Linked DNA regions of Homo sapiens: all the other regions are linked to region 1. The links come from fine-mapping of genetic effects on gene expression. A gene starts in region 1. Each other region holds a variant in brackets. All regions are shown on one strand. Distances are between the middles of the regions. Region 1 holds the start of AHCYL1 (adenosylhomocysteinase like 1). Region 2 overlaps LINC01397 (long intergenic non-protein coding RNA 1397). Region 3 overlaps STRIP1 (striatin interacting protein 1). Region 4 overlaps AHCYL1 (adenosylhomocysteinase like 1).

The links. PIP is the estimated chance that this variant, and not a neighbour inherited with it, causes the effect.
Region 2: its variant is the best candidate, but not a certain one, in a credible set for the expression of AHCYL1 in whole blood (TOPMed, PIP 0.64).
Region 3: its variant is the best candidate, but not a certain one, in a credible set for the expression of AHCYL1 in whole blood (INTERVAL, PIP 0.70).
Region 4: its variant is the best candidate, but not a certain one, in a credible set for the expression of AHCYL1 in whole blood (INTERVAL, PIP 0.61).

The regions. Positions count from the first base shown.
Region 1 is chr1:109,979,804-109,987,132 of GRCh38, reverse strand. It overlaps AHCYL1 (adenosylhomocysteinase like 1), which reads right to left and starts at 2,368. Exons shown (of 17, transcript NM_006621.7): 1 at 1,961-2,368. The coding sequence starts at 2,080. RefSeq lists silencers at 1,823-1,892, 2,073-2,142.
Region 2 is chr1:110,086,378-110,091,377 of GRCh38, reverse strand. All of the region lies in intron 1 of LINC01397 (long intergenic non-protein coding RNA 1397), which reads right to left. Among named protein-coding and RNA genes, the nearest start is that of LINC01397, 6.2 kb to the right of the region's middle. The variant A/T (reference allele first, on the strand shown) is at 2,850.
Region 3 is chr1:110,037,876-110,046,298 of GRCh38, reverse strand. STRIP1 (striatin interacting protein 1) reads right to left here. Exons shown (of 21, transcript NM_033088.4): 2 at 8,339-8,408; 3 at 7,542-7,616; 4 at 6,993-7,127; 5 at 6,784-6,904; 6 at 5,596-5,664; 7 at 4,657-4,763; 8 at 4,438-4,565; 9 at 3,029-3,211; 10 at 2,443-2,660; 11 at 1,394-1,459; 12 at 1,221-1,284. Among named protein-coding and RNA genes, the nearest start is that of STRIP1, 7.5 kb to the right of the region's middle. The variant C/T (reference allele first, on the strand shown) is at 3,941.
Region 4 is chr1:110,012,759-110,021,181 of GRCh38, reverse strand. AHCYL1 (adenosylhomocysteinase like 1) reads right to left here. Exons shown (of 17, transcript NM_006621.7): 5 at 8,183-8,285; 6 at 6,325-6,419; 7 at 5,651-5,757; 8 at 4,722-4,838; 9 at 4,452-4,515; 10 at 3,599-3,687; 11 at 3,166-3,236; 12 at 2,715-2,809; 13 at 2,532-2,630; 14 at 2,063-2,131; 15 at 1,556-1,634; 16 at 331-451. Among named protein-coding and RNA genes, the nearest start is that of STRIP1, 18 kb to the left of the region's middle. RefSeq lists an enhancer at 1,965-3,164. The variant C/T (reference allele first, on the strand shown) is at 2,220.

The DNA of each region.
Region 1 (7,329 bases):
CAAAGTACTACGTAAATGCTAAAGAATAAAACTTAGAAGAGAAAGATTAATAAGAAACACGGTGGGGCACATTTACTGGTAAATGGAAACTTAAAACAGGGTCTTCCCACATTCCTGGCAGAGCCTGCTTCTTTTAGCTAATGCAATATAAGTCTAAAATCATCAGCACTTGGCCTGACAATAATACACATTAGTAATATTCCTCCTGGGAAGAAGAGAGGAAAAGGGATAGTTATTCATGGTAGGTGGCCACATGGACATCTCAGTTACTAGTTAGCCAGGTGAGCAATTAATATTTGAGTACCTACTGTATGCTGGGTACAAAGCTAGGCACACTGGATACAAAGGTGAACAAGAATCCCTGCCTTAATGAGTTTTTACAATCTACGATATAGACTTTGTCTTATCAACAGTGGTACTTTCAAGAATACAGATTTACTAACATAAAGGCAAGTAACAGCAAAGAAGACAGAGTCTGGGAAATTCAGGTATTAGGGCTTTCCCATTCTTTCCTCTAACTCATCTAAGGTCCCACCCTCAATCATTCTGCTTATAAGGACTGTGACTGTTTCTCCAAAGAATAGTGCAGATTGCAAAGGGTCATTGTCCCAACAAAGCAGTCAACTGAACTCTCAGCACTAAAGTTAATCAGATGCCTCAGAGTCAAGGAATCTTCCACAATCTTTTAAAGGAATTAAATTCTTAATTTTGTGAGAAAACAGCGAAAGCACACAATGGCGACTCGTCTTTTTTGATCTTGCATTTGATTTCTGGAGTGGCAGGTTAATTCACTTAAAAAAAAAAAAAAGAGCCATCTCTCCCACTTAAGACAGCTTAACTAGTTGAAGCCTCAAGGACTTAACTATTCCTGCAGCCCTTGCTTTGTTCAGCCCTGCATCCCATTAAACACTGGATGCAGGCAGAGACAGCTTTGTAAGACTCTGTCTTTATAAAGAAGGGAGACATTTATCTGGGTTCTCACTGGCTTCAGGAAGGTCACCTCTTTGTAAAGGTTCTCTGGTCTACTGCTAACTGGGTGCCAGGTGTATGGAAAATCAAGATGTGGTTGGCAGTAAATGATGAGAAAGCAATAAGGATCCCAATTCCACCACTCGGAGAGCTAGTCAGACTAAAATCTCCAAAGGTTGCCATTTATGAGAGAATTCGAAGGGTGTCCTTTGAGTCAACCTACAGCACAATAGATCAAACTTGTTCTGCCTCAAAAGTACAGTCAAGAGTGAGCAATCTTCCCTTACCACCCACTACTCCAACCCACCCAAGCTCCTTTCTCCAGGGATGCCTAAGTGATCTATTCACATGACTCTAGGATCCACCTGTATCCATGACAGTGTCTGCTGTCACCAACCTCCAAATGTCAATTTCTTACATATTTCGAAGTAATTGGAATGCTGTAGAAAGTGAAAATCATAGATTTTCAGTTTCATGTTACCCTCATCGCTTTCACCTGTATATCAGAGCTAGCTTCACGCATTCTTTTCTCTTGCCTCCCAGCTATCACGCAGTTGTTGGATAAAGCGGCCACTGCTCCCAAAGATTTGATGGAAGTTCTGCCAGATTTACCCACTCACCTGAAGGGAGATTTTCTGTACACCCCATGCCCCCGGACTGGTCACAAGGGTCAGCTGAGTTGGTTCACCCCCTCCCACTCTCGTCTTCGAGGCCCTTCATCCAGGAAAAGTCAGTCGCAAATTTAAGGCCTGGCCCTGTCGGGTTTCAAAACGATCCCGGAGGACTTGGGCCGAGGGACAAAGGAAAGCGAGGTCAGAGGCGGCCTTTCAGCCCGGGAGAGGCCTGGGGCCGCACAGCCGCCACCCCCTACATCACCTCCGCCGTCCCCAGTCACCCCCAGAAGTCCCAAACTAGCCAGAGCCCGGGCTTGCTCGCGTCCCTTCCGCGAGGCCGGAGCCCGAGCCCCCGCCGCCACCCAGAGCCCCCGCACCTTCTTGGGCGCCTTGGTGACGGTGGCCATGAAGGAGTACTTCTCGGCGTCCTCGATCTCCTTGGCCTGCTTCAGCTCCTCCCCGACCCCGGGCAGCGGCATCGCGTCAGGCATCGACATTCCCCGGCCGGCCCGGCCAGCGGCTGACCCGCCGCCCCCGCCTCTTTCCCCCTCTGGCGCCCGCCCGCCTGCCCGCGCGGCGCCCTCCGACACGCGATCGCCCACCCTCCTGCCGGCCCCTGCGTCGAGCTGCGTCGGCTTCTGAGGTGCTGTGGCCCACGCCTTGTCTGTTCGGCAGCCCAAGGCAGCCGGACAGCGACGGCGGCCACAAGAGAACCAGAACAGCAGCTCCGAGCTCCGACCTGCCCGCGCCGCCACCTCCGCTGTACGCAAACACGCACGCAAAGCGAGGGTAGAGGGCGGTGACGCCACGTCAAGTACTGGCAGCTCCCGGGAGGGGGAAGAGGCGGGGAGAAAGGGCACTCTGTCGTGACGTCACCACGCTGGGCTGGGCCACAGAAGCCGTTCCTCTCCCGCTCGAGAGCGAAGTTCCCAGGGTGAGCAGGACCCTTTGTGCCACCAGGTGGCACCATCAGCCCTGGGAGCAGCGCGAGGTTCATGCAACGATGCTGCGGAACGGAGGGTCTTTGGGCTGCGGGGTTCCTGGCAAGGCCTCAGAGGCGCATGAAAGGGGTGTTTGGGAGCAAAGACCAGAGCCCCACACGACACATCCTACAGCGATTCCTAGGAAATGTCCGGGGCTCGAGACAGCCCACTCACTCACTGGCCCAGCCCCAGGCCCTTTGGATTAAAGCTCCTTCCCAAGGGGCCGTGCCTGTCTTTTTGACTTCATAGGGGGCAGAACTGACTCAGAGTAGTCTGGTTTCTGCACAACGCTTTGTGACTTCCTCCACCACCATCTCCGACTGGGCCTTGCCTGTTTACAAAACCCTCATTGGGATAGGGCTGATGGGTATGAGGGTGGAGACCAGGAGAGCTGATGGAGAAGTCCCCAGCCAGAATGGCCTTCCGGTCCTTGCTCCACCAAAGCATTAGACCCTTCCAGCTCTCAGTGGGCATCCAGGACATTCATGGACTGCTCACACCCTTTTACTGGGCCTACTATGTGCAGTGCCTGTGCTGAGGCCCTGCTGGCAAAAGGACATGTGACGCATTTTATGTTTTGCAAGGCTTAGTTCAGCTGGAGAGGCAAAACCTGCTTGTATCCTAATGTCAGCTGAGGTAGCTTGTCCTTTGAGATTCAAATGACATTGGCTCCAATTACCATGTCCTGTGGAAAGTCCATTACTGGGAGGACTTGGATTTTCATGGTCACCTCTGGCTCTAGTTTTTTTGCCTTGTCTGGCATTTTATTCACTATTCTGGTCTTGTGACTGTTTCTGTAGCTCCTGGGGTCAATTCAGCCGCTTCTCCTTTCAACCCCCACCCCATGCTAAACAACTACAAAATAAGGCTGTAACATGTAGTAAAACTTTTAATAAAGGTTTGTGGGTCACAGGGGAGAGATTACATCACACAGCAAACAATTTAAGAACACATTTCTGAAATGTTCTGAAAAGTTATTTTGGCTGTCTTACCACCCGGGGATTTCTCAATGGCCACAAGATCCCACCACGCTCCCTAGCCCATTGCCATCTAATCTAGCTTCCTCCTGTTCCTCCCTTCCCATCTCTGCACCTCATCCTTCCTTCCTTGATAGACTCTGGGAAGCCAGATTCTCCTCTGCTGTGCTGAGCAATTCCAGTCTTCCCAGTGCCCTTTCCCTAAATTCCTCCCCAGGACCACCTTTTTTTTTTTTTTGAGATGACGTCTCGCTCTGTTGCCCAAGCTGGAGTGCTCTCAGCTCACTGCAACCTCCGCCTGCCGGGTTCAAGTGATTCTCCTGCCTCAGCCTCCTGAGTGAGTAGCTGGGACTATAGGCGTGCGCCACCGTGCCCGGCTAATTTTTGTATTTTTAGTAGAGACGGGGTTTCACCATCTTGGCCAGGCTGGTCTCGGATCCTGACCTCGTGATCCACCTGCCTCGGCCTCCCAAAGTGCTGGGATTACAGGCGTGAGCCACCGCGCCTGGCCAGGACCACCTTTTAACATCCAGAAACCTCCCAGGTTTTTAACAGGGCATACCCTTTCAAGAAGGAAGTTTTGGTTTGAAATGGCATTTTCCCCACTGATTTGTGTTCAGGGCTGGGGAGAGTGTGAAATATTCACCTCTAGGGCCCTAAAAGTCTTAGTCAGGGAATCCTGTGTTCCAGCCACCTAGCCTCATGAGACTGTCTGTTTGAAAAGGGCTGTAGAAGTGCCTGGAAGAATGCACCCTTTGCACATCTGCAGACCTTGGTCTTGAACTGTTTGTATTCTTTCATCTGCTCACTTTTTTGAGCACTCACACTTCCCTGTCAGGGGCATCACTGTAGCAGAACGGGAACAGAGATGGAGACCAGAATACCAGGTTCATCCATGAGGGTGCCAGACTGACATCTTTCAGCTAGGGGTCAGGAACCACACCTGGTGCACTAAGGACTCTCTGAACATAAGGCTCACAGTGGCTTTCATCCTTGTGGGTTTGCCCAAACTGTTGGCAGAGCCCAGGGATCAGAGATGCCTGCCCAAAGACTCGAGGCAGAACCCATTGGAACCAGGGATGAAATCTCAAGTCCCTATAGTAGAAAAATGTGTGACTTAAGAAGATCTTTTTTTTTTTTTTTTTTTTTTTTTTAAAGAGAAGCATCAGTGTATCTGTCTTTTGGATTTGATTTTTAGAACTCACTTTGTCTAAACATGTTGTCTCTCAGTCCCCCAGTTCTGCTGTGCATTTAAGCATCCAGACTGTGAGCTTCCTGGAGATTGAAGTTCAGTCTTTACTCCTCCTGGACCAGGTCTGCCCTAGCACCAGGCTCACAGTGTTGTCTGCTATTGCTGCTGCTACAGAGGATGACAGACAGGGCCAGGCCTAGAGCATGCAGTACCTTAGCAGTCTGGGCTAAGAAGGAGATCAGCAGGTCAGACTCCACTCACCTGAGTGGCTGGCCTGAGGGGAGGTTGATGAGCTGATGTAGGAGAGTTCGGGGACTCAGACTGGAAAGGGGAAGGGCAGCACCCCCTACCCTGGTGGAAAGCATTAGGCCTATGTGGTTCAAGTGAGGCCAGGGGCCCGGGACATTCTTGGAAACCAGCCACTGCAGGGGGCATGGGTGGCTGCCATCCCTTCCATCACGTGTGTGCTGGAGAGCAAAGAGCTCACCCAGCCAGGGAGTGTGACAACATAACATCCGTGAGAATCATTGCATCCTGTCTCCCACCCCCAAAACCCATCCTAAGATAGCCTCACATGGCACAGCTAAGGCGATTGCTTCTCATGAATGCCAAGAGATGACTTGTCTTCAGCCTACCCACCCACCTGACTCAGCACCTCTACTGGCAAGCTCACTGCCCTGAACAGCGCATCCACACACAGGTGAGAGACCCCCCACGGGGCAATTGGAGAAGAACAGGGACCCAAAGACAGATGCACCTGCTGTGTGTGGTGGTGGGAAGTCTCCAAGGGCCTGGAGCGAAGACCCTTGCTAGAAAGGAGTGGCCTAAGGGCAGTGGTGAATTGGGAGATGCTGTCACCAGAAATGTAGTGGCATTGGGCTACCACACGTGGGCTTGGTCTTGTTAATCAGATTCACTGTTTGTCCACCCCCAAATTGATGTTCTACATTCAGTCATTTGTTCTTTTATTTATAAAATATATATTGAGTGCCGAAGAAGTGCCAGCAGCAGGGCTAGATGTCAGTCGGGACTACAGAGATAAATAAGCTGAGGTGCTGATCTCTACGTGGGGACAGGTGATGGGGGTGGGGTGCAGTGGAGGGCAAAGGGATGACACAGAGGGAGATGCTGCCAGAGCTGAGTCTTGACAGATAAGCAGCTGGGCAAGGGAGGGAAGATTCTCCAGGCTGAAGAAACAGCCTGAGAATAGGCATGGTGATGGAAACAGCTTGGCATATTACGGGAACTGTAAATATCCCCATGTGGGTGGGGCACAGGGTGCAAAGCAGGGTGAAGTGAGCGCTGAAGCCAGGGCCAGATCCTGCAGGGCGTGTTAAGCCCTGGGTGGGTGGTGGTGATGTCTGCCATGCTGGGGAGCACAGGAGGAGAAGCAAGTGTGGCTAGAGGGGTGGAGGGGGGCTGCTGAGAGGAGTCAGCTTGGGACATGTTGAGTTTGATATGTCTGTGGAGGGCACTGTCCCTGAGTCTCAGGGGAGCCCAGGTTGGCACCTTTTGGAACTGCCCGCTCCCTGCCAGTCAGGCTCCCCACCAGGGGGAGGCTGTGCTCCTCCTGAAGGCCTTTCACCTCCTGTCGGCCAGGTGTTATGTTAGCCCTCTGGAATGAAAGTGCAGAAAAACTGCAGAGATCTTGGGTGACAATGGAAGTTCGGAAGAAGGTGAAGAGGGCAGTGGCTCTGTCTCTAGCTCTCCAGCATGGGCAAACCCTCCAGCTCCAGGCTTCTTTCTGTCCCAGAACTGCTACCTTGCACAGCTCTAGGAGGCACCACTGACATTGTAATTATTGTGAAAGGTGCCCTGGAGCACCACTTCAGATTGGTCACCTACCTCGCTGGCCCTTAGGGACCCCCAGAGGGTGGGCTCCCGGTTGCACCTCTGTGGCTGTGGGTGCTGGTCCTCAGGCTTCCTGGCTCCTACTTCCCACCGAGCTCCCTCCCTCCCTACCCTCAGCCTTTTCTCCTTCCCCTTCTCCAGTTCCAGTGGGAAAACATTCCTCCTTCTCTGTCTCCCCCTCTGCTTATTATTGTCATATTTATTAGGATCACTTACTCTTTATTATCATTTTGAACATTATAGGAAAGAAAAATCCATGAAGATTTTTTAAAAATTTCTTTTCATCTTGTTAAGTTCACTCCTAGTTCTTAGCAATTTGCAGAAACTCATTTTTACATACCTGTGATTGGTAGGTTCATGTCCTTTTGTATTCTGCTTTGATCAAATTACAATATTTCAAAAACACATGACCCGAACGGAGAGCATTGACATACTTGTTATTATTGTCCATGTTTTCCAAGCTTTCTGTCATATTGCTTTATGAGTTTGCTTAACTGTTTTCCTATTGTTCGGTATTTGAATTGTTTCCAACTAGTGCAATATAATGGAATGGAGGGAGGTGGTTTCGGAGTGGGTGTGGGGATGGCTTTCAAGCAAAACAGGCGAAGATGGGTCACAGCACCAGCTCCTGCCAGAGAAAGGGAGCAAAAATGTAAGTAGTGGGGGCAGTTATAATGACTGTAAACAAGGACCAGGATAAGGAGGCACCTTTTGGCCCTAGAGGATCTGAGGTCCTGTGTCTG
Region 2 (5,000 bases), 110 kb before region 1:
ATTTATAGTAAGGATGTAAATTTTCCTTTAAAAAGATGTGTGTGTGTGTGTGTGTCTGTGCATGAGTTAAAGAAAAATGTTAATGATACAAGTGACACTCAGATGTGGCAAAAATCATGAAAATTACTCAAGTCACTAAAGTCTGAAAAACACAGCTCTAAAAGATGCTAAAACAAAAATATGAGCTCTGCCTGAAATCCCAGCACTGGAAGGCCGAGGCAGGCAGACTGCTTGAGCCCAGGAGTTCGAGACCAGCCTGGGAAACAAAGTGAGAACCCCGTCTCTACAAAAAATACAAAACATAGCCAGGCATGGTGGCACGTTCCTGTAGTCCCAGCCACTCAGGAGGCTGAGGTGGGAGGATTGTTTGAGCCTGGGAGATGGAGGCTGCAGTAAGCCAAGATTGTGCCACTGCACTCCAGCCTGGGCAACAGAGTGAGACCTTGTCTCAAATATATGTGTGTGTGTGTGTGTGTGTATATGTGTGTATATATATGTATACACACATATATATACACATATATATATGAGCTCTGAGCCTCATATTCATATACAAATCTCATAATCACTCAAGCCACCCTAAGACCAAGGATGGAACATCCCCCTTCCCTTCACAGCTCCCTGCAGGCTGCAGGTGGATAACTTGCCCTCTTCCAGGCCACTTTGGGATTTGCCGTGCAGGGATTTCACCAAAGGGAAAAGTTCTCTGATAATTCTTACCATCTCAAGGCCACAAAATTGATGTTGTTAGCAATGGTATCCCTCTAAATGCTGCAAATCCATGAAATGACTTCTGAATCAGCAAAGATTACTGATTACTCTTTTAAAGAATAGCTGCAACTGATCACATTCTGACGGGAGTAGAAGTTCTGGACAGCAGTGTTCCCAGATGGTGCACTCTGCAAAAATGAGTGGGTTTTGGCACGTTTCAGTGCCTGGCCTAGGGCCGACCCTGAGGGGTCTCTGAGTCTTAGGTGGTCCACACACAGAATTGCCTGCCAGAGTCAGATGAGTGCACCCGTGTGGGGTCCACAGACACAAGCAGAGACAAAAGCTCCGGAGGAATGAGGTCAGGAGATAATCAGATGCGACTCCTGCGGCCTCTCCAGGACCCTGTGGAAGCCCCCACAGCCCTTCTCAGGAGACCTTTTGGCCCAGCAATGTTATACCAAAAGTAGGAAGTGTGGGTTCTGGGTTCTCAGCACCTCCAGCTGCAGCTGGGCTGAGGAAGGCACAGCTGTCCTGCCTAAGGCTGTGTCTCTTGTGAAGGAGAAACATCCGGTCAATTCCATCAAGAATGTCAGTCAAAATCCCAGGGAGGGATCAGTCAGCTCAGCCCTCCTATCCAGCCAGCTTTTGTGCCCTGGGAGCAGGCCCCTGGACTGTCCTCAGCCAAGACAGGAGAGGCCCATCTCCCAAGGGCTATGGCCTTGCTGCCCCTCATCCCACACTCCTCTCCCACCTAAAGCTTCGGGCTGGTAGCCTGCAAGTGAGCAGGGGTTGATGCAGTGGTGCACAGGCCCCCGCAGGATATGACCCAGGATGTGAGGACCCGCAGGCTGGAGGAGAGATATGCAGAGGTGAAAGGGCAAACCTGTTTCCAGTCTCCTTATCAGGAGTAGCCGAGTGAAAGGGAAGTGGCAGCCCCGGAGGTCAGGCTGGGGGGTTGTGGCTGGGGCAAGGCTAGGCTAGGTCTCCTGAGAGGAGACCCCGCTGGGCAGGGAAGAAAGAGAAAGGGGGTGTGGAGGAAGGGCCAGGGAGGGAAAGGGCTGGGAGCACTGACTGTATGGCCCATTCCCAAGGGGAGGAGCAGCAGGGTGACCAGCCACCCAGGCTTGCCCCAGACTGAGAAGCCTCCCAGGACACAGAAGTTCCCATTAAATACTGGGATGGTTGGTCACCCAGGAAGCAGCCCTGGCTAGGGGACTGTCAGAACCCAGCCACCTGCACCCCCTCCAGAGTCCCAGGCTCAACCACCACCTTGTCTCAATGCCTTCTTACTTCTCCCCCTTAGTTATTCATTCAGCAAACATTAACAAAATGCCTACTGTGTGTCAGGCCTGCTGCCAGGCTCTGGGAATTCAGCAGTGAAACGACAGGCATGCTCTCTGCTATCCCAGAGCTTGGAGATTATGCTTCCTTCAAAGCCACAAGGGACACTTACTCCCCTGCTGCCTGCCCCACCAGCCCATCCCCCGGGGCATGTTTCTAGGGAGCCCTCCCTCAACAGTCTTAGGTGGTCCACACACAGAACTGCCTGCCAGAGTCAGATGAGAGCACCCGTGTGGGGTCCACAGACACACGTGGGGATGGTGTCTAAATCACTGTCCCACCTGCCATGGTGCCTTGCATAGGGCCCTGTGCAGGGAGGTGCTTAATACATGTCTTTTGGTTGAGGAGCTAAGGTGTTGAGGGCCAGCTGGAGATGGGGGTCCCTCGGTCACCTGTCAATGCTCGCAGCCTCCCGCCACCACTGCCAGCACCCACCCATATGCGCAGGGCACGCCTCATTGTCAAGCAGCATTCTCCCTGCCCCAGCACAGTGGGGCTGACCTGTCCTCTCCTCAGCTGGGGAAAGTAGGCAGGCCTGTGGGCAGACCCCAGTCTAGCGTGGGGGTGGGGGTCCCCAGGATGGAGGAGTGGGACAGGAGCTGGTTTGTCTTCCCTGAGCAGAGAGGCCTTGGCCTTGGGCTCCAGCATCCTGTTCCCTCAGAGGTCCCACATGAAGAGAAGCCACAAGAGTCAATATGCCTCATGTGTGCCTGGGGGCTTCTTGCGGAGGCAGAGCCAAGCCTAGGCTCCTTCGGCCTCGGTCCTTGCCAGTGGAGAAGCCAGTGGGGACCCTGGGC[A/T]GAAGCTAAGTAGGTGAAACACACAGAGACGTGCTGTGGGGGCAAGGAAGTGGAGCAGTGCTGGAAGAGACTTGGGGTTCCAGCTACAACTCCAACAGACTCCTCTCCCCAGTTAAGGAGTAGGGGATTGTATCATTGAAGCCACTGAGGGACCATAAGCTTCTTGCAGGTGGGGGCCACAGGGCAGTGCTTACAGTAAGCTCTCCACCCTTTATGTGGAAAATAAGCCTGGCCCTCAGACAGCAGAGCCCCATGTTTCTGTCCTGCACCCTGGTGGCGTTTTATCATATTGCAACTCATGGGATATTACAGAAGAGGGAGTATGAGCTCAGCCCAGTGGACGCCCGTCTTTGGGGTCTGGCTTTGAGATATCATTAGGATGGGATTCCTGAGTGTTCTGGGAATAGCTGGAACCCAGCCACTCCCAACCAGCTGGGGCGTGGGAGAAAAGAGCAGGACTCGGGAAGACCATGCCAGAGAAAAGGGTAGCATGCGATCCGGTACACTCTCTATCCACAGGCCACAGACACACAGGAAAGGCACAGAAGACACCCTGGGACAGGGTAGGGGGACGTGGTGGAGGGCGGGAGGGGTAAATGGAAACTCAGGTGTCCAGAATTGGATTATGGCTTAATCATAGTCTTTGGTTACTGACAGGCTCTCAATCTTTCGTTAAGTATTCACTTAGGTAGTTTTCATAGTGCACAGGCGCCTGTGAACCAGGCATTATTCACTTAGCTTTCATAGTGCACAGGTGCCTGTGAACCAGGCATTATTCACTTAGTTTTCATAATGCACAGGTGCCCGTGAACCAGTGATTATTCACTTAGGTAGTTTTCATAGTGCACAGGCGCCCGTGAAGCAGGGATTATTCACTTAGTTTTCATAATGCACAGGCCCCTGTGAACCAGAGATTATTCATTTAGTTTTCATAGTGCACAGGTGCCTGTGAACCAGGGATTATTCACTTAGTTTTCATAATGCACAGGTGCCTGTGAACCAGGGATTATTCACTTAGTTTTCATACTGCACAGGTGCCTGTGAACCAGAGATTATTCACTTAGTTTTCATACTGCACAGGTGCCTGTGAACCAGAGATTATTCACTTAGTTTTCATACTGCACAGGTGCCTGTGAACCAGGGCTTTTCCTTCTTTCACTCTCTCTCTGCCACAAAACCACCCTTTTCGTCCAAAGGAAACTCCTCATGGAAACCCAGTACATGAAAAATGAAAAAGTGAAACTGGTCTGGCTGAAGTGGAGGTGGGGCCTGCCCACTGTCTACTTGGCCTCCCCGTCCACTGCCCCAGCAGCCCTGACTAGCCCCTGGCAGATTTGTGGAATGCGATCTACACCATCAGGAGCCAGGAAGGCAGGAATCTGTTTCCTCCATTCCTATGCCCAGTGACCAACACGTGCCCAGTTTGGTTACTCATTTCAACAAATGTTGGGTGAAATGTACTGAAGGAGATGAACTTGTTCCAACCACCACTCAGGTCAGGTTTGGGGAGGGGGCACTAGAAAGTGTCTCTGCCTCAGGATATCCTCCCCATCAGCCTACCACAGTGTCTAACATTCCCCATCACCATGCAGCCTAACCCTGCATGTCCTTCAGGACCCAGAGCAAACACTACTTCCTCCACACAGCTTTCTCAGATGTCTCCAGCCAGAGTCATCTCATTGCCCTTGAACGCTGTAGCCACTTGTTTATCTCTCTCTCTCCTGCATCCTTCACACTCACTCAGGCTTCTGCCTAAGTTCCTGACATACATGTCTCATTTCCCCAGTGGTGTAGACACTGCACAGCTCCAGGGTGGGAGATGTTTAACTGACTTTGGCATCCATCTCAGTGCCTTCCCATAGTAACGTTCCATAAATGTTTGAGGAAGAAAGAAAGGTCTTCTGGTGCTCCTTAGGACGCCGCTGTGTCTCCAGGAGAGCAGCTGGAACCAATTTGACCTACTATGACATTAGCATGAAGTTTATATACTGCAAACTGTCACCATGCAGAAAGAATAGAAGGGGATCCAGGAAAAGGAAGATTTGGTGAAAAGAGACATCTAGGGCTCCAGTGGTACCACAGCTGCATGCACAGGATGGGTCTCTGGCCCTGTGAAAGAGTCAAAGTGTGGCTGAGGAAGAGCTGGCAGTA
Region 3 (8,423 bases), 59 kb before region 1:
TGAACTCCTGACCTTAGGTGATCCACCCACCTTGGCCTCTCAAAGTGCTGGGATTATAGGCGTGAGCCACCATGCCTGGCCCCAAAATATTTTTCTAAAAGGGCCCCTTCCTCTTGCAACTACAGTAAGAAGCCCATGGTAGATAAGAAAAAAGTAAATTAAAGGAGGGAAATGGCCTTTCAGATAGCTACAGCAACAGGAGAAAAACTGAAAGCAAAATCAAGTACTCAAAAAGCCTAGCTGCAGAGAGACCACTTAGTACTACAAATTCCAAAAATATATTTCAAAAACATAAAAACAGTTTCACTCCAGATAGCTGTTAGGGGAGATGCCTCTTCCCCACTCTTAATGTTCTCTCCCGTGTGGAGGGACAGGGGTTTGCGAAACACCCCTCATCTCTCTCTGCCCCGTCCACACACTCACTCCTCCCTTCTCTGATCGGAGAGTATGGGAGGGGACACAGGGCGGACTTGTCCTCACCCTTCTCTTTTCTCTTTAGAACCTGTCTGCCTGCTGAGAGTCTGCTCTCTTCTCCTCCCCGCCACCAAGCTTGGCAGAGCCTCCCCACACTGCCTGGGACTGGTAGGTAACTCTGCCTAATTCTGGAACAACGTATTAGGACACTACTGCTGTGTTCTTAAGCCTCATTCTCCATGGCTCTATGAGCTATAAAGTTGGCATTACAATCTCCATCTGCCTACTCCTCTATTTCAACCGCCTGAGAACGTGGGCAAGGAAAAGGAGGGCTATTTATTGAGCTCTTTAGAATTTCAACAACTGTCAAGTAATATAATCCTTTTTTTTTTTTTTTTTTTTTTTAAAGAATCCGGGTCTCACTCTGTGGCCCAGGCTAGAGTGCAGGACCATGATCATAGCTCACTGTAGCCTTGATCTCCTGTGCTCAAACAATCCTCCTGCATCAACCTCTTGAGTAGCTGGGACTACAGGTGCATGCCTTGGTGCCCGGTGGTCAGGTAATATAATCTTTAAAGACTTCCCAGTCAGTCCCAAACAAAAGCTCAGCTAAAACAAGTAAAACTTATAATAAAACAAGCAAAACTTACGAAAGACTGTTTGCAAGGTTATTGCAAAGTCCACCCCGGCCTCTACCCCAGGTTCTTGCAGGCAGACAACAGTCTTAAAAGGCTTCTCCCTACAGGCTGGTTTCACTCTACTCACTTAGGACCAAACAAGCCAAAAGCTCACCCAAAGCCACTCACCTGTTTCAGAGTCTTGATGCTTTCGTGGATTGGCCTGGGCAGCCCCACCACTGTGTTCGTGTCACTGGAGAATAAAGAAGGCCCTGTGTTGAGCCTCGACATCAAATCACCTGGGATCCCAAACACCAAAGGCCGGGAGAGCTAACAGCAAAATGAACTCGGCTTTTACTCACCTGCCTAGAGTGTAACCTATAAATTTGCTGCGGCTGGACTCAAGGAACATCTCAATGTCTTTCTCTCTGCCACATCACCAAAAAAGAGAGAAAGAAAAAAGGTTTTTAGCAAATGCTATTTCAAAGTGTTACAGTTAACAAAAACACAGCATCCAGAAACTGTGAAGCCAGGAGAAGTCTCCTATAATTGTTTTTCTCTTTGAAAAAAGGGAAAAAACTGAAATTTTCAGAGAATTTTAATGTTTCTTATAATTTTGCTGGATCAGTAACCTGGAAATACATGTTAACTAGTTTATTCATAAAATTAAAGGGATATATCAAACTTAAAAACATGCTTTATTCAGATAGTATGAACAAGTTTGTCAACAGACTTTCTTAAATATTAAAACTTTTAAACAATTAAAGCTATAGGCTACTGATTTTTCATATAGCTCACTTTTCCTATCCCAAACAATCAGCATACCTTGCATTTTCTGATGATCTGTTTTGCATTCCCTTCACAGATCACTGAAAACTGAGGCTTTACCTGGATCAAGAAAGCGACTTCTATATCCTCTCACATGTTCATCTATTTCTTAAGCTGCTGCCTATCAAACAGACACCATTTATATATCTCCAGGTACCGTCCCATCCATCGATTTACCCACATATATCTCAAACATTTTCATTATGGCTCTAAAGAAACTCTTCCTTAATCTATCATTTTTGTTAAAAACCATACACAACCCCAGGATGGGTGGAGACATGTTTGCTTAAATGCTTTTGTTTTTATTTGTTTCCTATCCCCCTTCACTAGCACATCTAACCAAGAGCTAACTCCAATTACTGCCTCAGTAGCCACATGAGGGCCATGTTGTGTGAGACCAGCAAGGCCGGCCTCCCTGAGACCCTCAGGACAGCACAGGGTGCTTTAAGAGAGCCTCATCCCAGAGCCACGGTCAGCCTGCCCTGCAGAGGACCACACATGGTGACACAGGCCAGGTGGCAGGCCTGAGGGTGTGAGGGCTCTGCCTCAGGAACTATGAGTGCTCTGGAGGTCTGAGACTCACCTGACCTTGGGAGCCCACGGGAGCCCTTTGGGGCAAGTCAGCCTGTCAGTCTGTGGGTGCTGTAGCGGGGGAGGCATCACTTCATCCCGTTCCAGGGGAAACGTCTCCCCCTCCAGACTGTTGTCATCATCATTCTCCTCTTCCTCTTCTCGAGAGTCATCAGCCTTGTAGGGATCCCGCTCGTTGAAGGCATCTAGGTTGTCCTGCTTTATCAGAGCCTGAAACCAGGGAAGGGAGATGAGACAAGAGCCAACTGAGGACGCAGACCAGGGAAGTGCAGCCAGAGGAGACACAGCACATACAGGTGTCCAGTAGAGGCAAGAACAGTGGAAAAACCACAGTGGGAGTCAAGACGGGGGCCAAACCATCAACTACTTCTTGCTCCAGTCCCTCAAAAGCACCACGTGCTGAGCACTCACCATACACTGGACCAGAGCTGGGGACAAAGTATCCTCGCTGTGGAGGCATGATTCTGACTGGCTGATCAGAGATCATTTCCAGCAGCCCTGCTCCTCCAAGGACTGTGCTGCTGCAAGCATGCACCTTGAGGGCCCTCAGGAGTCACAGGGACCTCTGTCGTCCTCACCTTGTGCTCTCGGCGGCCCCGTTTCTGCTGCTGCTCAATCAAGTCTGAAGCAGATGCTGGTGGAGAGGCTGCTCTCATGTTGCGAATCACTTTGATGCTGTCCTCAGGAAGCGGGGGGAGGCCCAGGATGCTGCGCTTCTCAGCCTTCATGCTCTGCAGCTCCTCAAAGCCGCCTAGCGTGCACTGCATCACAGACAGGGAAGCAGAGCCAGGGTCAATGTGTCCACAGGCTGGCCCCTGACCATTGTGTCAGGCTCAGAAACATTCATGACATCATGACCCATGTCTTTATAGAGACCCAGGCAACTCCTGAACAATGGACTGAAGCCACTCCCAAGGAGAATTCCGTGACATCCGCAAGGGAAAGGAGAAAAAGGAACAAGGAAAGAGTGGAGATGCAGGCTGACTGACCCTAGTGCAGATACACTAACTCTGCACCTATGACATACTCTTCAATTTAAAAAGAAGCAAAGAGCCTAACCCTGCAAGTTCCTAGAAAAGTTGGTGAGACTCATGTTTCACAAGTTGTACATGCAAGTCTTTCAAAGTCAAATTAGAAATACTGTTGGTTGCTCAACTTTAGAAGAAGAAAAAAAGCTTCATCTAAACATCTCCCAAGAAGCAGAAACGCCAGCAACATCCAGCTTTAGACTGCTTAGTTTTACTGTTTCTGAGCAATTCAGCTTTCCTCTCTAGCCTTAGCAAGGCTTTATGAAGAACAGAATGTGTGGCCAAGATAAAATGTGTCAATGACTTTTAAGAAATCCTATACTTACTGAGCCCTGGCTCCAGAGTTGACCCATTCTGAAAGGAAGGATGAGCCCCAGTGTAGCAGAGGCCCAACTCACCTCCACCGCCTCCCCATGTCACTCCTCCTGGGAAGGCCTCCTGGCATGGCCTGGCTGCTAACAA[C/T]GCTCCAAGCCCAGTGTGCTGGACGGCCCACTCTGGCACCCAGTCCCTCCCTACCTAGACACAGAGTCGGGCTGACACCATACCCTGAAGAAAATGGAGGCTGGCTCAGGGCTCACTCTTGCCCCTTTAAGTGATATCCAACCAGGGCCCCAATTACATCAGCTGTAACTTTGCCTCAAATCCCTTTACAAACTCCAGGTCCAGAGCTGCTTGCTGAGAGGCAACTTGTCTGGGGGAGAGCTGTTCTATGACAGAAAACAGCTTCCGGGGTCAGAGAGCCAACAGCCTACTCTGACTCAAGGCCTATGTCCTCGTTGGCTGCAATGGGACAATAGTGGCCCTTCTTTTGTCATCTCCTTTTAGCAGCTTTTTAAATAATTTTTTTTACCAAAGCAGTTTTACAGTCACATAATTCAATATTCAAAAGGATATTCAAGGAACAGTCTCCCTACTGCCCATCCCATAGCACCGTTCTCCTCCTCCAAGGAGGTGCTCACCAATACTGTCTTCCAGAGCAGCAAGAGAACTTTCTTCATGGGAAAGTGAGGGGCGTGACCACTGCAAAATTTGGTCACCATCCCAAACAGCATGATGGCAAATGGCTCATTGTTGTACAGCGGGGAGCCTGGAGGTGACACAAAGGTATCAGGACCCTCCCAAAGCCTTCCGCCTCAGCTTCCAGGCAGGGCCTCTAGAGAGGATCCCCAGGGTCCTACCCAGCTCGGCTCTGAAGGTCTGCCGCATGGTCCTCCACTCAGCCTTGTCACCCTCACACTCCTGATGAACGGTCTCCACTATCAGGTACATGATGTTGAGCAGGACCCTGAGGACAAGAGCCAGCTCACAATGGAGTGGGATGGGGGGGTCAAAGGAGCACCCTAGTGTCTAACAAAGTGCTTACACAAAGCAGGGGCTTACTATTAATAAATGGTATCTGAATAAATGAGTATGAACAAGAATGGCCAAAAGCATTTACCACCCTAAGCTTCCTGAAAAGAAAAAAACCACAGAGGTGGTAGCGAGCTGTAGGGTCAAAGCAGAACAGGGTCACAGTGAGAACAAAAACAGGGTTTATGATGAGGAAATGGAAAGCAGGAGCTGAGAGGTGACGCCCAGGGATCCTAACACCCGGGAGGCAACACTACAACCACCTAGTCTAAAAACTTCCAAATTCATAAAAAGAGCCAGATTTCAACCCTCAAAAACTGAGGGGTGATCTTGGTGGTCAGCAGTTGCTGTGAGCTCCTGGGCAGCCATGAAACATTAGGAAGCTGTCAGGTCTAACCCAATGAAGATGAGCATCAAGCTGTGTACACAAGAAGGTGGGAGTCCAGGGAACACCATCAAGTGTTTCATCCAAATACAAAATACCCCACGACCAGGTCCTGAGTAACAGTGTGAGTAGGAGGCCACACTTAGCTGTGGCTCTAGTAAGTCACTTGACCCTGGATTGCCTTTGGGAGTCTCAACCCAGAGTCCCACCTAGGACGAGCCCTCAGCAGTTCCTACTAATCATTCACACTGAGCCCATCACACATGCAGATGATGTGTACAGAAGCACACACAGCAATGACACCCACAGACAGCCTCCCACACCCTGCTCTGATCTCATCTCTGACTAACGCTCAGGAGCCCAGGCTTGCTGCTCGCCTCACCTGAGGTCTGTGCTGTCAGCCAGGGAGATGGCAGGCTTCCTCACAGCACTGCTGCAGGCGGCACTGTTGCTGCAGGAGATTTTGAGAGTCAGCATCTTCCTCCAAGAAGGAAGATAAGTGATGTCCCTGACAAGTACTGACCAATGGGGAAACAAAATGCTGTGATACGTGCTTGGACTGCACAAGAGGCCACAGGACACGGTGGTTAAGAAACCAGACCATGGCTGGGCATGGTGGCTCATGCCTGTAATCCCAGTACTTCGGGAGGCCGAGGCGGGTGGATCACCTGAGGTCAAGAGTTTGAGACCAGCCTGGCCAACATGGCGAAACCCCATCTCTACTAAAAATACAAAAATTAGCTGGGTGTGGTGGCAGGCACCTGTAAACCCAGCTACTCAGAAGGCTGAGGCAGGAGAATAGCTTGAAGCCGGGAGGTGGAGGTTGCAATGAGCCAAGTTCACGCCATATCACTCCAGCCTGGGCAACAGAACAAGACTCTCTCTCAAAAACAAAAACAAAAACAAAAAAAACACAAAAACAAAAACAAAAAACCCAGCCATGCACTGGACTGCCACGGTTTGAATCCTGGCTCTAACTGCGCCTTAGTTTCCTCATCTGTAAAATGGGGATGACAGTAGTACCTATATCCTTAACATGAATTAGCACATGTAATATTCTGAGAACAATGCCCGGGACACACAGGCACTCAATGAGCTGTCTTAGCTTTATCATTGATGGTGTTATCCTTAGATGAGCAGCAGCTGACCTGTCCACTGGACAAAGGTGACACAGGCAAGGCCAGGCACTGGTTGAGCCCATATGTCAGTCTTGTGCCTGGCCTCCTGCCAAGGCGGAAACTGCAGGGCGAACACAGCAGTGTCTGCAGGTTCAAAAGAGAGCTCAAAGTGAAGAGTCTCCTTCTGAGGAGCACCCCAGGCCTGGGCAGGGCCTGCACTGTCTGGTGTAAAAACTCTGGCATCAGGGAGCTGCAGGGACCTGTCATTAGTCTCCATTAATCTTCAAGGTGTAAGTGACCAACTCCGTTATTCAACCCAGGTGGTCAGAACACAGCCTGGGACCAGAACTTCTGCCCCATTTAACCCTCTCAAAGCCAGTTAGTTCTGCAAGCTCTGTCCCCCTTCCCATCCCAGCCTCCCCTTCCCTACTCAGCCTCTCAAAAATGCTCACTCTATTTCCATGTTCAGAAGCTCCACCAAAGCATTGAACGTGCCCACCTCCAGGAGGAGAAAGATGTTGTAGCGCATCCAGGACTGCACCTCTGCCTCCGAGCTGCACTCCCCAAACGTGCCTGCAATGCAGGGTTCAACTCACTGAGCCCCTCCCTGCATCTGAGTGGGCAGAGGTGCCAGGGAACCCTGGGGAGGTCCACTCAATACCTTGAGCAACATAGAGAATTGCTCGAGCCACCTTGAGTCTCTTCTCCCTGGCAGTGACTTCCAAGCCATCCAGGAGCCTCATGGCATGGGTCCGGTGCTGGTTGGTATCCAGCTCAGTCCACTTCTTGTCTGTCACTGCAGGGCAAGAAACCAGTTACACCTGAGCCTAGAAAAATCCTCACAATGGCATGGACCCATGTTAACTCACCAAATTCAGGACTGCCATAGGACCAGAAAGATAAGTTACACCCTATGTAAGTGGTAAGATCATACTGCTGCTCTATGAATTTGATTCCAAACTGAAACGCTGGTATTTTGGGTGCAATTTTAATCACATGATTTTTTTTTCTCCCCTAATATGCACATTCTGAAAAGCCCCCACCGATGTGCCACAAGCCCACTCTACATGTATCTGGCTTTGAACCATCAGGGTTCAGCAGGCTTCTCAGGCTGTTCCAGGATGACTCAGGTCATTCAGATGCCTAAAAGAAACCTGCAGCTCTCGTTATGCAGGGCAAAGGAAGCAAGAAGTGTGGGAAATCATCTCACCATGGATCCGGAAGTCCTCCTCAAAGCATTTTCGATTCATCAGGAATTCTGGCCCTTCCGTGTAGCTGTAAAGCTCTGTCAGAACAAAGTCTCGTCACCATTGGTTCCATGTCTGCATTGCACACCAGGTCTCACAAGTGCAGAGAAGGCAAGGCATTTGCTTCCACTCTCAACTCTGCCCCTGAGTCATAGTGACTCCTGGAATAAGCTCTCTAATTATGAAGGGGATCTTAGTGCTCTGATGTGCACAATAGAGACAACCAGAGTGCCAGAATGCCATCTGGACACTTCCAGTCCGATGTGCATCCATCCCACCATGCCATGCCAGGGCTGACGGCCACCTGGGATGCATCTCTCAAATGGCTGCTACCTCTTGAGCAGGATGTGTATTGTAGAGGCTGGAGAAGCAGCTCACACCGACCTCGCATTACATGAGAGTGGCAGTGGCAGCAGCAGATGGGCACAGATGCAGGCATCCCTCATGACCCATTGCTGGAGGAGAGACCACTGTCAGGGTCACAGTGGATAGCCAAGGAACATCACTGTCTCACAATGGGACTGGGCTCTAGCCAGCTTCATAAAAGTAAAGGACAACACAAAGTTATAAGATACACAAGGCTTGAATCAAATAACATGTTTTATACATATATATATATATATATATATATATATATATATATATATATTTGATAGAACTAGGGAAAGCAATGAAGCCCTAAATGATATTCATTATTAATTTTATTAAAGACCAATAAGGAAAAAACCACCCCCAAATAACACAAAGGTCTGTGCGTTACCCGAGAGCTCTGCAGCCCACTTGTCTGTGTCAGCATACTCAAACTCCAGGTCTGGTGACTCCGAATAGCCCTGCTGACAAGAGGA
Region 4 (8,423 bases), 34 kb before region 1:
GCAACCTCCGCCTCCCAGGTTCAAGTGATTCTCGTGCCTCAGCCACCTGAGTAACTGGGATGACAGGTGCCCGCCACCACACCCGGCTAAGAGATAGGGTTTCGCCATGTTGGCCAGGCTGGTCTTGAACTCCTGACCTCAAGTGATCCATCCGCCTAGGCCTCTCAAAGTGCTGGGATTACAGGCGTGAGCCACCGTGCCTGGCCTGGAACAGATTTCTTGTATTCTTCAAAATCAGGTACAACATTTGATCTTTATGTCAGAAGCAGGCTAGCCTGCTTGGTTTAATACTGGGAAAAAGAGCTTTTCACTTGCTTCTCCCCAGGTTACCTGTAATAATTAGGTTTGAATGGCCCATTTTTGTTGAGTCCCAGATATTTTGCTTGGTCATCTGTCAGCTCTGTAAGGTGGGCATCAAATGATGGCAGATGCAAGCTGGCAACGTATTCATCTAGGAAGAGCAAAGTGGCAGGAGAGCAGACTCCTTTTCAAAATGTCTCTCAAGTTATAACTTCCCATTTTCATTTGAAGCTTTTTTAAGAAAGCAGACAAGGGATGGAATAACTCTGAAAGAATCCACAACTTGAAATATTTGCTTAATTAAAAAAAAAACCTCAAAGCTGCCTTTCTGGGCAGGATGCTTCTCTCAGCACATGTACAGTGCGTTCAGAAAAGCCACTTACCAGGGTAACAAAAGGGAGTGGGCTTTTACCTCTCTATCCTTCTCTGGCAAAGCAGGGGGCTTCCCTGCAGTGGCCCACATGTCACATGCTACTCCTACCTTCCTGCAGCAACCTCCTTAACTAGATTATAGTCAAATTAGCAATCAAAGTGGACACCAGTAAGCTAGAAAGACCCTGTGTCAATAACACTCATTTAGGATAAGATCCATGGATCTTAGGATCATGAATTTCTAAGGTAGTCGGCACAGAATTTTTACTTTTCCATAGATAAGCTTCCCTTTTATAATTATACACTGAAAAAAAAGTCTGAAGTAAGCTATTGGAGGAGAGGAGAGCAAGAAGTATTTTAGCATTAAGAAGTCAGGGATTTGGGCTAGCCAAGGAGATATGGGAGATGGGTACACCGTGCAGAAAGGCAAAGGACTAGAGATGATGTATTATGTCACATGAACACAGCATGGGTTGCTTACAAGAGATTGGATGGTTTGCATATCCTCACAGAAAATGGACAATAAAACCTGTGTTTGTTTCTCTCATTTTGTTCCAAGGCTGTATGTACTCAGCTGCACTGGGAAGTTTACTGAACTTCATAAGGCTACTTAGAGTAAGAACATCTCCCTAAACCATTGTGTTAAGCACTGTTACTCATTAGCTGTGATTCTCACACAATTCTACAATGTATGTAGTATTATTTTCATTTTACCAATCAAGAAACTGAGGATCATAGAGATTAGAACTTGTCCTGAGGTCAAACAACCAGTAAGCACAGGAACAGGAATTGGAACTCTGACTCTAAATCCAATGCCTTTCATGGCAGTCATTTTACCAAACTATGCAGCTGTCTGCATAGATTTCCACTGTTTTTCACTCACCCATTTTCTTAGGAAGCAAGTACACATCCTGCTTGTATCGCCCCTCGGGTGCATTATAGAGTTCTATCAGTGCCAAAGCCTAAGGTGGGAAAAGAAGGCCAGAAAGCACAAAAATATTTCTTAGACAGGCACATAAAAATAAAACCAGGTTAAACAGCATTTGGGTAAGTACTACAGTGATCTACCACAGTCACAGTACCTAGGACTTTGCCTATACTAAAGGGCAGCACACATCCTAAGAGGATTTGTTGTTTTTGTTTAGTTCCTAACGAAAGAACAAATCAAATAAAACTAAGCTGGAACATTATATTCTCAACTAAAACAGCCAATTCAACGAATACTGACTTAGTGACTCTTTTCTATACTTAAGAATACCTGTTTCCACAATTTATTACATCAAAAAAGAATAGGATGATGAGAACATAGTACAGTACACCCTCACTGGAACTGATCTACGCCCAGTTCCACAAATTGCAGTGCAGTGTAAGCAGGCATTTTGCCACATACCTGTGTTGTGGCTGTGATGGACAGAACAAAGGTGGGAACTGTGGAGCAGCTCAAATTGAGTAGACGACCCTGGAAAGGTAAGAGAGAGCCCTGGGATGAGCTCTGTCTCAGATTCCAATGGCATACAAGTCAAGCCAAAGCGGGAGAGGACTTTACA[C/T]CCCTCTAGACTCAGTTGGAAGAGGAAGAATTACAGTTCCAGATCAGGACTCTAGGCTTTTTCCTATTTTCTGCAAATCCATCTGAGTCTGAAAGGTTAAAGAATCAGCTGTGGTTAGGAAATAGTGTTACTTAGTAAAAAGTAGATTTTTTTAAAGTGGTTTTATTTTGGGGACCAATTTGTGAAATATCTCTCTCTCCAAAGATAAAATTCAGGGAAACATAGGCCTAATATTTGTTTCCCTCCCCTCCCCCCTCATAGATCTAACTACTCTGCTTGTGCTGCTCTGCCAGGGTCCTTCTCTGTGTGTACCTCTGCCAGGAGGACAACTCGTTTGCCATCTGGCCAGATGACATGGTCCACCTGAGAACGTACTCGCTCCCACGTCAGCTCCGGAGTGCGGAGGCTGGTCTGAAAGGAAGAAAGCACAGTTGACTATGGTTATTAATGAAAGGTAGTAGAGAAATGCCTAGCAACAAATGAGAGAAGCCTTACCACATCGATTTCTGTGTTGGAGTGGCCCATATTGCATACGATACAACTGTTTTTCATGCGATCCAAGTGCTCCCGTGTCACTACATTCTTATTTCCTAAAAGAAAAGATGGGTGGTTAAGGAAAGAGATGCCGGGCAACAAAGGTACTGGCTGGCTTTCAGGTAGAACATAGGAGACCAGAGGCTTGCTGGCATTAAAGAACATGTAGACATTCTGAGAGAAGACATGCATAACCGCTCCTTAGGCTATCTGGTCTTCAGATCAAGCAGTATAAAAAGTCACCAGGGAAAAAAGTTTTTTACTCTGGAAAACATGTTAAGGTTCTGATAGCTTATTCTAGTTCTGAGACCTTTATACTGAACAGAGGTCTCACCTCCTTTGTATGAAAGTCACTCAGACTACTTTCAAGATTTAGCCTCTGAATAAACACTTCTCTATGCAAGTTATTTACCTGTGCAAGTTATTACGACATCGACTTGCCGGATGACTTCATTTAGCTTTACCACCCTGAACCCATCCATGCTGGAAGAAAAGAAAGGAACACTATGAGTAAAGCAAGAAGGCAGTGGGAGGGAAGATGGTCATGAAATGAGACAAGATCCCCTTCTAGTTGGATCCAGTGCCACCTCACAGGAATGGTGAGTGATAAGCTCTGCTAAACTATATACACTGGCCTCTTCAGAGTCCCCAAGACTCCCTCTAGGAAGGAAAAATGCCAAGAGGCTCTCAGAGAGCCCTAGGGTTAGAGTGAGAAGAACAGAGCAGTCCTAGCCTTCTCTTCCCCTAGGTGATTTCTGCAAAAATGATTAATATACTCAATTATGAACTCTCAATAACATAAAGCACCTAGAGTGAATCTAATAGTATTATCACTCTGTTCTTACCAGGCCTGCAGAGCACAGATGGGGTCGATTTCGGTAATGTAGACAATTGCTCCAAGAGCTTTGAGAGCAGCACAGCAGCCCTTGCCTACCTGCAGAACAAAAGAAAGGTCAAGTCGTTAGGTTCATTAAGTCATGGATATTTAGGGTAGGTAGGTTATTTGTGAGACAGGAATTAACCTTCATGAAATAGCCTGTCATCTGGTGAGCAGCTGCACAGACGCTCCAATCCCAAGCAGAACAGAAACAGACCCAGATTACGTTGTGAACCTCAGTTAGAGAGGTAATTTAGCAGACATGTCATAGGAAGGACTGGGGCTTTGCATAGCAGTTTTCATCAGGGAAACAAGACTAAGCAAAAGCAACTTACTCTAAGCAACCTCTAATTTCCTATTCTCTTACTTGAGAAGAATCTACTCAAGGATACCCTCGTAGCTCAGGAACTTCTTTGGGTCATTGCTGAAGACAACAAAATATGTGACCTATTCCAGTTTGGAGATATTCAACTATATGCCATTTCAGATTCCACCCTTAATTCTACTGCAAGTCACTTGTGGGGCTAAAATGCTATATATTCACTTGAATTAAGTCTCATTAAAGGTTATTGTTATAATTGGGGAAGATGATACTAGTATCTATTCCACAAGGCAAAATGGTAAAATCTGAAAACTCAATTCATTTTGTATGTTTCTATTCATAAATCTGAATAAAAGGCTTTTGCTATTGTTTGAGATACATTATCTAAAAAAATTTAAACCTTGTATCAGTGACTCTAGATTGACAGCACAAGCCTCCTTTACCCAATATTTCTAATAAGTACACAAAAAGAAAGAGACACTGAGACCCAGCTATTTACCTCACCATAGCCACACACCACCACTTGTTTCCCACCAAACATCACATCTGTGGTCCTCTTCAGGCTGTGGAAACAGACAAGGGCTCAACTCAAACGTTAATAGCTCAAACTCAGTCCCTCTTCACAAAGTTAAAAGTGTGGGCCAATGCCCATGAGAATATCAATTGGAAGCTGGTTGAGCTCAGTATGAAATGGTCCCTCTAATAAACTTTTAAAGCCAAAGGAAGACCAGAGCCCCTAGAAGTTTGAATATATATACATTCAACCTACCCATCCAAAATGGATTCTCGGCAGCAGTACAAGTTATCAAACTTCTGTTTGGTAACAGAATCATTGACGTTCATGGCCGGAACACAGAGCTTCCCAGCTTTGGAGAGCTGATACAGCCTAAAGAGAGAAGAGGTCACAAAAACAAACAAAAACCAAGTTAGCTGGCACAACATAATTTGTGGCAAAATCTGCCTAATTCTCTTCAAGTTCCATGCTGCCCTTCCCAGTCTCATTTATTGCCCAAGGATATTAGAAAACATGATTATTTCCTTGTCATCCCTCCACACTTCTTTTCATTTTCTTCTCCCTTTACCCCTTTTTTGGAAGAAAAAAAAAAGCCTTTCAATTGAAGAAATGTACTTCTCTTCCCTTTATAGGGAGTGTTATTTCCTTTGATCAGCATTTTTCAATAGAAACCCATGCCTACTTCTGATAAACAAAGACTATCAATGATTCTGATATGGTTCCGTGTGTGTGTGAGTAAGCATGCGCAATGTGCCCCCAAGAAACACTCTTTCAGATATCTTTTCAGTATTCCAACAAGCCAAGAATATTTTGCCCAGTTTTACTTTTTGTAGTGTGTATAACATGTAGTTTTACAATAGGATTGTTTTTCATATTTCAAATATAAAATGATAATACAATATTGAATACAGTTTTTCAAGATACATTTATTCCCTACCCGCCCCTCAACACTAGTTGAGAATCACTCAATGGAGTAAATGGGAGAGAAAAATGTATGAACTAGAACCTGAAATAACTTCCTTCTAGGATCAACTTGATTTTTCAAAAGTAAAAACTCAAAATTTTATCTAATGAAGATATTCCCATTTAGTTATAAGTCTGAAACACAGTCCTAAAGCCTAACAGAGACCAGGAGAGTTTGCTGAGGCAAGGACACAAGGGGCAGCTACTCCAGAATCTGTTACCTGTGAACACCAGTCACGCTCTCTTCCACAATGCCTCGGATCTTCTTAAACACGTTTGGATACTTCTTATAAACCCAGTGGGTTAAGTCTCCCCCATCATCCAGGATCTATAGAACAGCCAGAAGACTTCTATGGGCATTCAGGCTGCTAGGGCTGGGGGGAACTTTGAACCCACTTTCTGTACTAGTAAGAGAGCCCTGTATGTTTTGGAAGAGTACTCCTCAGAGCTCCCTAGAGCAGGCTTAGAGAGTGGAAATACAGTCAAATTTGTTGGTGTAAAATGGTTAAAAGGATTCCTAGGTTTGCTTTAGGCTACAGTGATGAGTATTAAGCTAATCACAGACTCATTTTTAGTCTAGAGTCTTGAAATATATAGCCCCTTTGAATGCAAAAGGAGAACTGGGGCAGGAAGGAAAGAAAGCAGAATCCTACTCCAAAGAAGCACCACTATTTTGTTCTGGTGTGTTTGAGCCATGTGTTCAGCTAGTCTTACCCTTCCCCCACCTTTCCATTCAGTACTCAGACCCATTCTGAATAGGTATCAAGCTAAACACTTTAGCAACAAAGTCAGTGCATAAGACCAAACATCCAAAACATATTTAGGGAACCATGCTTTGAGGGAAAAAAAGGAAATAAATCTATTGTCAAAGTGTAGGATGTATATGCATTATTACCATGTTGGCCTGCCACCCATCCATGTTCACACAGCGGTCAATACACCACCAGAAGTCATCTTCTGACTCGCCCTTCCAAGCGAACACTGCAACTCCTGTAGAGACAGAAATGAATCAGCTGATTCCTCCTTTGAGGAGTGTCCTGTACCAAATCACTTTCTGAGATCCATGTGAAGAGAAAAAGGCAAAAGAAACAATTTCAGAAGGGAAAAAATTCAGAGCCAAAAGTCAAAGAATCACTTTTGGTTCAGAAATTAATTAGGTTAAGAAATTAAGGAATTTTTGCTTTAAAAGTAGTTTGGAACCTTAAAGTGTTCCTTTCTCTGGACTAATTTTATACTTAGAAGGAGATAAAATGAAGTGGGAATTAATAAAAGTTGTTAACTGGAGCATTATTGATATTAGTAAACATCTTGAAACAACCTAAATGTTCTCCATTAGGAAAATAGTGAGGTGAAATCACATAGCCATATGAATGACTATTACAAATGATGCTGTCAAAGTTTTCAGTGACATGGAAAACTACGTCTGAAAATATTGTATTTAGGTTATAAAACTGTATACATATTAGAATTTATGTAAAGTAGAAGAAAGGAAAAGGAAAAACATTAATCAAATACTCTATGTAGTGGGATTGTAGGGTTTTGGGGAACTTCCTAAATTTTTTGCAGTGAACACTTATCAGAAAAGAATAAACAAAAAAACCCAAAAGTATTATAAAGTTGCTTTCTGAGGATCTTAAAAAGATGAGAGGTCCGGCTGGGTGTGGTGTCTCACGCCTGTAATCCCAGCACTTTGGGAGGCCAAGGCAGGCAGATCACTTGAGGTCAGGAGTTCGAGACCAGCCTGGCCAACATGGTGAAACCCCATCTCTACTAAAAATACAAAAATTAGCTGGGTGTGGTGGCATGCCACTGCAATCCCAGCTACTCAGGAGGCTGAGGCATGAGAATCACTTGAACCCAGGAGGCAGGGGTTGCAGTGAGCCGAGACTGCGCCATTGCACTCCAGCCTGGGCAACAGAGTAAGACTCCATCTTAAGAAAAAAAAAAAAAGAAAGAAAGATGAGAGGTCCTCAAAGAAACTTCACGGTGATTTTCTTCTGAATATTTGAATAATAAAAATTATTATTATTGTTATTAATTTTTGAGATGGAGTTTCACTCTGTCGCCCAGGCTGCAGTGCAGTGGCATGATCTCGGCTCACTGCAGCCTCTGCCTCCCAGGTTCAAGTGGTTCTCCTACCTCAGCCTCCTGAGTAGCTGAGATTACAGGCGCACACCACCACTCCCGGCTAACTTTTGTATTTTTAGTAGAGGTGGGGTTTCACCATGTTGGCCAGACCGTTCTTGAACTCTTGGCCTCAAGTGATCTGCCCGCCTCGGCCTCCCAAAGTGCTGGGATTATAGGCGTGGGCCACCAGGCCTGGCCTGAATAATAAAAAATTATTTTACGTTTAATTAAACTCACAAATAGCTCATATATTTTCAATGCCATACTGAATACCAAATTATTTAATGCACTATCAATATGAAAGGTACTTCTTACTTGTGCTCTCTCACAAAATTGATGGCACTTATATAGTTTAACATTCTTCCTCGTTCAACTAACACTAGAACTGGGCATGACCCCATGCCATTAGATTATTTTCAAAGGCCATTTTTAATGACTACATAATATTCCACCATGGATATCCATCTTAATTTTATTATCCACTTTCTTCCTGTTGAGGTTTTTATCATGCACAATTTTATAGCCTCTAGACATATATGATATTGTAATGACAATTTTGATACAAAAAAGTTATATGTTTGGATAACTATTTTGGGGCAAAGTTGGTGGGAAAAAACCGAACTTACCAGCCTCAGCCAGTGCTGCAGCTACTTCATTCTGAGTTGAGTAGATGTTACAAGCAGACCAGCGGCACTGAGCCCCCAGGGCACAGAGTGTCTCAATCAACACCTGTGTAGAAGTGTAGGAAGACAGGGTGAGGAAGAGAAGGGCCACCCAGGAATGGAGAGCAAGCCTCATCAAGATAGCAATACCTATCAACTCTGCACCAACAGGTGCTACACTGGAAAGTTACAAAAGGGTGTACTC